Regions from separate parts of the Homo sapiens genome. Here region 1 is linked to region 2. The links come from fine-mapping of genetic effects on gene expression. A gene starts in region 2. The other region holds a variant in brackets. All regions are shown on one strand. Distances are between the middles of the regions. Region 1 overlaps OPCML (opioid binding protein/cell adhesion molecule like). Region 2 holds the start of OPCML (opioid binding protein/cell adhesion molecule like).

What was found.
Region 1: its variant is fine-mapped to the expression of OPCML in cerebellum (GTEx, PIP above 0.99). The same link has a PIP of 0.9 or more in cerebellar hemisphere.

What each region holds. Positions count from the first base shown.
Region 1 is chr11:132,895,963-132,901,339 of GRCh38, reverse strand. All of the region lies in intron 2 of OPCML (opioid binding protein/cell adhesion molecule like), which reads left to right. Among named protein-coding and RNA genes, the nearest start is that of OPCML-IT1, 470 kb to the left of the region's middle. The variant A/G (reference allele first, on the strand shown) is at 3,054.
Region 2 is chr11:133,530,158-133,535,534 of GRCh38, reverse strand. OPCML (opioid binding protein/cell adhesion molecule like) reads left to right here and starts at 3,034. Exons shown (of 8, transcript NM_001012393.5): 1 at 3,034-3,271. The coding sequence starts at 3,211.

The DNA.
Region 1 (5,377 bases), 630 kb after region 2:
GGTGATTTATTATGGTGAGATTTTAATTATTTAGCTGGTGTTTATTTAGCTTGTCCTGGATGTGAGGCACTATACTGCACACTGAGCCTATGATAAGGAGCAAACACTGGAGATAGACTTTATTTATTTATTATTTATTATTTATTTATTTATTTTTTGAGAGACAGAGTCTTGCTGTGTCACCCAGGCTGGAGTGCAGTGGCATGATGGTGGCTCCCTGTAACCTCCGCCTCCCGGGTTCAAGTGATTCTCCTGCCTCAGCTTCCCAAGTAGCTGGGGCTACAGGTGTGCACCACCTTGCCCAGCTAATTTTTGTATTTTTAGTAGAGATGGGGTTTCACTATATGTTGGCCAGGCTGGTCTCGAACTCCTGCCTGCCTTGGCATCCCAAAGTGCTGAGATTACAGGCATGAGTCACTGCACCCGGCCCCGGAGATAGACTTTAAATAATAACACAAACTGAAGTGAGATGGCAAGGGCGCTAGTGGATTGAATGGAGAGCCACCTAGAACTGCCTGTTGCCAATTTGAGAGGAAGATTTGGACTAGTTAAAAATGCCAGAGCAGGCTTCTCTGACTGTAGACATGAAGGAGCTGGAGTTAGTTTGGCTAGGGAGGGTTTCATAGAGAAGGAACAGAATGTGCAGAGCCCATAGGGCAGGAAGGAGAAAAGCAAGCCAATGGAGCTGGAGGTCACAGCGTGCGGAGACAGTGCCAAGTCTGTAAGGCACATTTAGGAGCTTCATTTCTATTAAAACAATAGAAGATATGAGTGAGGCTGGGCTGAGGGGAGAATGATGACATGAAAAATGTTTTGTTTGTTTGTTTAAAGATAATTTTGGCTGCAATGGGAAGAAATGCGTATCAGTGGGCCTGAGTGCACCTGGAGACCCTTTGGGATGCAAGGCGAGAGTTGAGATGAGAGATGATGGTGGTTTAGGCTACAGTGATGGGTGGAAATGGAGAAACACACACAGATTTGAAAGACCCTTAATCATTGAGACTTGGTGATAGACTGCATATCAGAGGAAGAAAAGAGTGATATCAAGGATGACACCCCATTTTTTGACTGGCCTAATTGAATGGCTGGTGGAACATTCATCGAAATAGAAAGTACAGAAATAAGACCCCATTATGAGCCTATAATAAGTCCATTATGAACTTGCTGTGGGCATGGCTACTTGGAATTGCTTTGCAGTTAAGAGCTGATAAAAAGAATGCAAGTTGTACAGGTCTGTATTACTCAGGGTTCTCTAGAGACATAAAAATCAATGGGAGGAGATTTATTAAGGGAATTGGCTCACCTGATTATGGAATCTGAGAAGTCCCGTGACAGCCGTCTACATATGGGGGACCCTGGAATGCCAGTAGTGTTGCTCAGTCCAAGTTCCAGGGCCTGAGATCCTGGGGTGGGAGTGGGGGTTGCTGGGCTAAGTCCTAGAATCCACAGGCGAGAGAGCCTGGAGTTCTGCTGACCAAGGGCAGGAGAAGAGTGTATCCGAGCTCCAGGAAAGAAACCTATTTGCCTTGCCTCTTTTTTGTTCTGTCTAGGTCCCAGCCTATGGGATGGTGCCCACATACAGTGAGGGCAGATCTTCCCCACCGAGTCCACTTAGACTCACATGCCAGTCTCCTCTGGAAATCCCCTACAGACACACCCCAAAATAATGCTTTATCAATTCTCTAGGTATTCCTTAATCCAGTCAAATTGACACCTAAAGTTAATCATCACAGGTCCACCTTTGTCAACTTGGCACCTGTTTGCATCCCATTAAACCATACTTAACCTCCAAATGAAGACAGTAACAAGGAAATAGTTCCACCTAACGTGGTGAAACTATCTGCATACAACTGAAAATGCACTAATCTCTTCCCTAGAAGAGAAGGTAAAGTGTTTGGATGATAACTGAAACACTATGATGTAAAATTAACAACACATATATACTGATATAAAGTCAAAAAATCTTATTATACATAATAAAGGGATAAGAGATGAGCAAAACCAAAGATATTTGCTTAACATATTTATAACATGTATATAATATGTACACCAAAACATATCCTTAACAAGATAGGAAGAAAATACTCATGACAATTACTGTCCTTGTTTCTGTAACTAGTCACATGGCCACAGCTGGTATTTATAACTGCCTTCCACTACCCATTCTGTATTATTTTACCTGCAGCAAGCACCTCAGCTGGTCATGGTTCATTACCTGGTGGGGTGACCTGAACCTTTATTCCTGAGGAATCTGGGTCATTAGTAGTCCTCCCTGGATTGGGTTGTGGTAGTTTCCCATTGACCTTGATCATGGGGCATGGTAATACTAAGAGACACCCTAAGGGATCTCCTGTATTCCAGGCATAGTCTTCCTTACATCCAGTGGAGTAGTAATCCAGTTTCCCCTTCCTGATCCGGATCAGTCACCCAGTCAGCACCATAACATAGCCAGTTGACTCAGAAGCATGAGGCCTCCAAAGTGGCTGCGGGGGTGGGGGGGGCAGTCTAAACTTCCAGTTCAATGGAATCATTGTTGTGTCTCCTGATGGAAACATTACTCTCTCTGGAACTAAGACCTCTAGGTCAGCAGAGCATAAAATCATGGGAAAAGGAAGCAAAACCTTTGCTAGTGGGTCACTAGGGGTATTGGTGAGTGGTGACACTCCCACTCTGTGATTCCTGACTCCATGTATCCTGACTATGGGAAAAACAGGATCATATATTGGATGCTGATTCAGAGCACATACAGCCTTCTGGAAAACCTTGCCCCAGTCCTGCAACGTTAGCTGGTGCTGTAACTGCAACTTCAAAAGGCCATTTTATTGTTCTGTCAAGCTTGTTGCTTCAGAATGGTGGGACGCATGGTAAGATTAGTGGATCCCATGAACTTGGGCCCAGTGCTGTACTTCTTTGGCTGTCAGGTGAGTTCCTTAGTAGATACACTGTGTGAAATACCATGAGCGTGGATAAGGCATTTTGTGAGTCCACAGATGGTAGTATTGGCAGAAGCATTGCATGGAGGGAAGGCAAACCCATGTCCAGAGGAAATGTCT[A/G]TTCCAGAAAGGACAAAATGCTGCCTCTTCCATGATGGAAGCCATCCAATGTAATCAACTTGCCACCACGTAGCTGGCTGATTGCCCTGGGGAATGATGTCATGTCAGGGTTTCAGCGTTGGTCTCTGCAACAGGCCAACTGAGCACTCAGTGGTGGTTGTAGCTAGCTTAGCCTTGGTGAGTAGAAGCCATGCTGCTGAACCCGTGCACAACCTCCATCCCTACCACCATAGCCACTTTGTTCCTGAGCCCACTGGGCAATGACAGGGATGACTGGGAAAAGAGATTGACTGGTATTCACAGAATGGGTCATCCTACCCTCCTGAATATTAACATACTCCTCTGTGGAGCTCATCTTTGGGTGAGCATTTACATGAGAAACAAATAACTTCACATCCTTTGCCGACTCAGAGAGATCTATCCACATATCTATTCTCTCAATGTTTTTGCCACCAATTTTCTAATCATGTTCCTTTCAAGTCCCTGACCATCCAGCCTGTGAATCAGTACCTAATCACACATCTGGCCATTTTTCCTCTAAGCAAAGTGCACAACCAGGTGCACTGCCCCAAATTCTGCCGCTTGAGATTTTCCTTTACCACTGTCATTAAAGGATCTTCCAGAAAGGGGCTGAGGTGCTGCAGCTGTCCACTTTTAGCTGGTGCCTCTGTATCATACAGAACCATTTGTCCACAAAGCCCGATTTTTCTCTTCCTCTGTCGGCTGATCATGAGGACTCCCCATAAGGCCATAGGTGCAGGTGGTGGGAGAGAAGGCAGTGTGATAGGAGTAGACACCAAGGACATTTGGGGCATTTCTTCATGTAACTTCTTTGTACCTCCAGGGCCTGTGCTGGTCCATTATTTGATGAGGGACTGCTGCTGTGCATGCCCTTCCTGGCTTGGTAGGTCAGATGACACCCAGTTCATGATGGGCAGCTCCGGTCACCTGGTAATTGGTGGCCCATGGTCAAGCGTTCAGTTTCTATTAAGGCCCAGTAGCTGGCCAAGAGCTCTCTCAAAAGAGTAGTTATCTACAGATGATGGCAGAGCCTTGCTCCAAAATCCTAAGAACTTCTGCTGTGATTCTTCTACAGCACCCTGCCAAAAGCTCCAAACAGCATCGCTATCTGCCACTGACATCTTGGATATCATTGGATCTGCTGGGTCATATGGCCCAAGAGGAAGAGCAGCTTGCATGGCAGCTGGGACTTGCTGTAGAGCCTTCTGTTCTGGACTCCACTCAAAACTAGCAATCTTTTGGGACCCTCAACAAATGGGCCAGAGTAAGACACCCAAGTGAGGAATGTGTTGCCTGCAAAATTCAAATAGGCCCACTAGGCATGGTATCTCTTTCTTGGTTGTAGGACGAGCCAGATACACAACATATCCTTCATCTTAGAAGGAATATCTTGACATGCCCCACACCATTGGACTCTTAGAAATTTCACCAAGGTAAAAGGCACTTGAATTTTAATTGGATTATCTCCCGTGCTCTGATATGCAAACGCCTTACCCATAAGTCCACAGTAGTTTCTACTTCTTGGTCATGAGGTCTGATCAGCATAAGGTTATCAATAGAACAGTATGAAATCTTATGGAAGGGAAAGGCAGTGAAGATTCCCGCAAACTGGATTGTGACATAAAGCTGGCGAGTTGATATATCTCTGATGTAAGACAGTGAGGGTGTATTGCTGGCCTTGCCAGCTGAAGGCAGAGTGCCTCAGGTGGGCCTTATGAACACAAATGGAGAAAAAGGTATTTGCCAGTTTAGTAGGTGCATACCAGGTACCATTTTGAAAACTGCATTCAACTTGTCTTTGACGGTTGAGTGCCGTCACTTGGTCCCTATCACCTTGGGATCCAATTACTCCCATTGCATTTAAGTTTTCCAACTGAATAACAGCAGCTCCCATTGTAAGGTCTGGTCTACAGAGAAGAGCAATCACAGAGCTCTTCAGGGGTGCTGGGGCTCCCCTCACAAATCCATTGTTCAAAGTATTGATGAAAAGTCTGTCTTCTGGACCCTCCTGGTGTGTCCGAGTAGGGTTTAAGTGACAAATCCACTGTAGCTTTCCAATCTCCCTAAGCCTTTGAATCCCTTCCTCTGTGTTAGCCCAAGGGAGATCAGGCATCTCCAGCTCACTCACAGTGGCTCATGTTTTTTGATCCATGTTTTACCACTCAATCAAACAAACTCACTCCCTGAGCTGCAAAGTTAAATTGAGGACCTCGGCTCTGAGGGTCCATATAAGTAAATTTGGCCTGATCCAACTTTATATTTCTTCCACCATATTCCCACACTCTCAGTATGCATTCCCACAA
Region 2 (5,377 bases):
TAAGAAAGACCTCAATTTCCTTGCCACTTATTAGTCTTAGAGGAGGGACTCGAGACTCTCTGTAACTTGTTCTATTTATTTATCTTTGAAATGGGCTAGCAATACAGAGAAAATTTATGAAGTTCCTAGGATTGTGATTGGCCCAAGACAGTTTAATGAAAGTTTGCTCCTGTCTGGCCACTAGCTACCGACTAGTAGTGTGTGCCCCTCTTTCCTGGAGTGGGGTTGGGGCTGCATGGAATGCACTTCCATGTCCTCAGGTGCTACTGCACAGGCAGCGCTGGGACTCGGTCCCCTCCTAGGCTGCCAGTGCTGCTCCTTCTCTCTCCTCCTGGTGGTTAAGAGCACCAGTGGTGAAGGCAGGCCTTGAACCGGGGCTCCACACCCGGGCAGCTCTGCAATGTTGGGGATGTTATTAAAGCTCTTTGAGCTCCAGTCTCTCCCTCTAGTCTGTGTGGGTGATAAATAAATAGGGATTTATAAGGGCAATACCTGAGTGATTGGCATGTGAATATTCAATAAAATGATGGTGCCCAATATGATAATTTCTTCTAGGGAGTCGCTTATTTGGAAACAGAAAAACCCAGGATTAAATTTTGGCTGTCACTAACTAGCTGTGTGACCTCGGATAAATTACCTAACCTTTCTAAGTCTCGGTTTCTTCATCTCTCAAAAAGGCATAATTACACCTTCATAGAGTAACGGCTAGGAATTGAATGTGATAATATTTTTAAAAAAAATCTAGCCTGCAGAGGGTGAATACATGATGTCTATTATCCGTAGAATGCCATCAGTCACTACGTCCTCCTAACTCTTCTGCGTTCCACATACAACCCCCTTCTTTTCCTCTTCTACTGCTACCACCAGTTCCAGGATCTATCAAACTTGGGCCATGCCTACTAACAAGTGTGCTTGCCACAATCCCTCCTGTACACTTCACCCAGATTAATTTCCATAAATTAACTCCCTCTCATTCACAGCGCTCCCCTGCTCAAAAAGAAATTAACTGTTTTTCCCAGCAGGGGGAAATTTCTAAATCACTGGTCTAGGACTCAAGGTCTTTCTCTCTTGGTCTCCCATCTCCTCCCCTAACTCCCCCCTGCAGGGTTTCTACCTGTGTCTGCTCTCTTCCCCTCCATGAGATGTCTATCTCATTTCTGTGGCCTATCTGGTCTCTCCCACAATTTCAAGCCAGTTGTATTCTCCAGCGTATTCAGCCACTGGTAATAATTCTGGATTTCTGCAGGATTCCAGCATTGCCTGAAGGATTCACATATCAATTTGCTTGTGAACGACATGTTTGCAGTGATGAGGTCTACAAAATTTGACTCTAACAGTGTGTACGTGTCCTATTATTTTTATGTACATTCGCAAAGTCACAATGCTAACTTTTGGCTGATCTCCTGACTTATATTGTATGCCCTTTATAGACGAGAACAAATCATATTCTTCATATTCTCATCCCTGAAAAAATGACTATGTTAAGTAGGTACTTCATAAGTGTCAGCGGATGATACAATCATCATCTGTTTTCTCTTTTACTGCTGAAGTTTTCTGACTTGTTCATAAGGAGGGGAGTAATCAATTGTTTTACTTCTTTAAAAGTAAACATGATTTATTTTATAGAAAGAGAGGCGCTCAGTCAGGCCCAAAGAACTTGTTGGCAATTGGCTGCTTTATAAAAACTGTGTGGATTTTGCAGGACAGACCTGGGTTTTTATCTTAACTCATTAGCTGTGTGGCAAGTCACTGAATCGCTGTCAACCTCAGTTGAAAATTCAGGGGTCATAATGCCTACAAGGAAGGACGCTGGTGAGGATTAACTAAAGTGATAGAGGTGAATACCTGCCCATAGTAGGTCACTTGGGAAAACTTTGGGAATTGCAGCAAAGGAGGAAGGGAGAAAGACCTCCTGTGGAGTGTCCCTCACAGACCTCAAGGTGTGGACACGTGGAGCTGGGAAGGAATCCAAGCCACTTGAGGTCTTCGGAGAGCACCTGGGACAGAAATCGTCTGCTGAGTCCCTTCTCTAATACTTGGTGCTATTTTGATCACAGACCCTCCAAGTTCAGGGTATAGTTCAGTGGCAGCACCACTCAGCCAGCAAGGTGTGCTGCTTACAAGCACGTGTTAGGGAGGGCAAGCAGGCCGTTTTAGAGCAGGGGAAAGTTCTGAGGTTTCTTACACCCAGAGATACTGCCATCCTGTGTAAACTGCCGGTGTAAACTGCCATTCCAGAGGAAGGGACAGACTGGACCCTGAAAAGGAGAAGCAGAAAAAAAAAAAACAGAAGGAAGCCACAGGTATCCTTCTGTGGCCTTCTCCTTGTGAAGATTTCCGATGACTTCAGCAAGTTTCCGCCTCCTTGAGATCTAATCTGAATCTGTCCCTGCCTATGCTGTAATCATAGCAATTGTTTGAGCTTCTATAGCATCTTGCCTTGGTAGAGTTTCAGAATGCTCTGATTGTGGGGAACTGGCCAATTCTCCCTGCATCATTGGTTTAAAACCGTAACATGCCCATCTCCTTACTGGGAAAACCAACTGCTTCCAAATGCTGTTAATGGCCGAATGGAGGGGTAGGGTGCAGATTTAAATGTCTGAGCTCTCCCCGTGGGTAGCAGTTCCTGCTCCATCCCTGCCTGGAGACTAGGAAGAAGGAAGAATGATAAGGAACTGGCATGGGCATTAGTCACATTTCTGCCAAGCAACCTTTCTTTCTTGGTGTGCCCTGAGCCCTGCTGGCAGTGCCAGGCCCTCTCCACTGCCCACCAAGGAGCTCGTGTGTGTTCACGTGTCCACGTGAGCCCCACATCAACATACTCACACAGATAGCAACACGCAGGGCTGTGCTCCGGTGAGGGGGTGAGTGAGGGGCCGGCTTCGACTCCCCTTGGAGTCAAGCCTTCCAAGCAGGAAAGTCTCCTTCCGTCGCTCAGGAGAGTGGAGCCAATGCGTGCCTTGGAGGACTGCTCTGAGCCCTGTGCAGATTGGTGCTGATGATTCTTACCAGTTGTGTGCAAGAAAAGAAATCAGAGACGCTGCCTGCCTGCTCCCATCTCTCGCGCGCTCTCTCTCTCTTCTGCTCTCTCCCTCCCTTTGCAAACATTGGATTTAAACCTGCTCAGAATTCAGCACAGAGGAAGGCAGCAGCGGTAGCAGCAGCAGAAGCAGTAGCAAGCCCGGCAGCTGAGAGCACCGCAGCGTCGAGATGTACCATCCTGCCTACTGGGTCGTCTTCTCGGCGACAACTGCCCTGCTCTTCATCCCAGGTACCGTACAGGGGAAGGGTGTTTTCTCTCCCTGGGGTGATTGTACGACGTGAGAGCAGGAGAGGCAGTGGGGAGATGGAGAGGCAAGGAGGAAGGGGTGAGGACAGGGAGTGTGAGATGCATGTGAGTGAAAGAGGTAGGCTTGCTGTGTGCACGCACACACACACTCACTCGCTCACACGCGCGCAGATGCTTTCAGCACGGGATTTGCTCTCTGTTCCGGGGGATCCAGTGAGCTGGGTTCGAGATCTGCACCATGCTGTGAGGCACTGCTGTTTCAGTGAAAGTCACCAACTGGCATTAACCAGCTGTGGTCCTGGGGGTAGGAGAAGAGGGGTTTGAACTCCCAGCCATAAATCCTTCTTGCTGCCTATGTTGGGACCTGCAGGGTGGAAGGGGCACCCTCTTATCTCTCTCAGTCGTGGTGGTCTCTCTCTGTTTCTGAATCAGTCCAGATCTCTGCGCCTCCCTGTCTCTCTCTCTGTTTCTTTTCTCTCTCTCTCTCTCTCTCTCTCTCTCCCTCTCCACCTCTCCCCACTCTCCTCCTCCCTCCCTTCCTTCGGAACTGCTCTCCCCTACCCTCTCCCCCTGGAGCTCCTTCCCTGCCCCATCCCTCCTTCTCAGCTCACTCATCTGCTCCTGCATTTCTTGTTGTAACACAGGCCCTCTACTGCCTGCCGTCCTTTCTTTATCCTTCCACCAAATGGGCAGATTATGCCCTTGAAATTCGGAATCCTCTCAGTATCTCCTTCCTGTTCCTTACGTCAGGAATATGAATTTCCCTTGGCAGAATTTGGGATGTCCCTGCTGAGGGAAGGTTGGAAATTTGGATTTGCCTGATTCTCCCCAGCCCCTTCCCCACCTTGTCTAATGATTTAAATGTGATCCCACCTCTCACAGCAGTTATTTGTTTGGGGAAAACAAATCTGCAGTGACACAGGTAAGATGCTGCAATCCTACCAAAATGAGCTTAGCAGAAGCGTTGCAAAATTGAAGGCATCTTAATAGATTTGATAATTGCACAGGAGTCCTTTGCAAGCAGACAACTGAATGCCTGCAGGCATCTTTCAAACAATGCCGAAGGGGCTAGGTTATGCTTGCCAAGGTTTTAGGCAGCAGCAAAAGTGTCGGTTTTCATACCAAACCGTCGCACAGTCAGGATCTCTTTTTTTCCCCCAAATTGAGATAAATGCATTGTGTTAAACATTAGCTTAAACCTAAATTTTCATACATATATACACAGACAGGAATGCTAAGATTTTAAAACCTTACCTGCCTTTTTATAGGTAAAACATACAGTTTTATGTTTCTATATTCAGTATTACTTGGTAGGGTTTTGTGGGAATATTTTCAGTGTTGTTTTTAATAATATAATTCCCTGAGTAGTCCTAAGATGCCAAAGTGAAATCAGAAAAATGGAAGTTTACTGGGGAGAAAGAAGAGAGGATCAACTAAAACAAGTAATCCAGCCTGTAATGTTTTGTAACACCTTGTGAAGATGGCACTTTTTAAAGCAGGGATGGGCTCTGCATAACCATGTTCCCAGCTGTTTGTTTTAGGCTGACCAAGAAGTTCAGAGTGGGGGTTGCTGTTGTTGTTATTCCAGATTCCAGCAGCATCCTAGGGGGTCCAGCCTGGGGGCTGTGCTCAGCAGGGAAGGCAGAGCCAACGGAACACTCAGTACCTGCCTGAGCCTGGTAGAGGGAGCTAGGTGGGTGCACTGGGTCCGTGGCAGGAGAAGACAAACTTTCCTGCGTAGGCAAGTCCCCAGCTGGATGGCAGCTCCGGGGGGCCTCCTCATACCCGCTTCCCCTCCTCTCACTGTGCTGGAGCAAAGATCAGGACCCCCATCCCAAGGGAATCCTGGCTGTATGGATGCGCCCCTTATGGCAGAAATCATAACATTACACTTTAGAAAGCAAGGCGGGGGGTGAGCCCCAGTCTGCAGAAGCTGCATTGCAGCGCGCCCTGAAGGAGCCAGGAGCCAGGGTGAGACCTCCTTCTAGGGGTCCCGTGGCACTGCACTGGTGGGGAGCAGGCAGAACTTGCTTGCAGGAGAAGTACCCGAAACTAAAGCCGGCTGAGGGAAAGGAGGATGAACCTGCA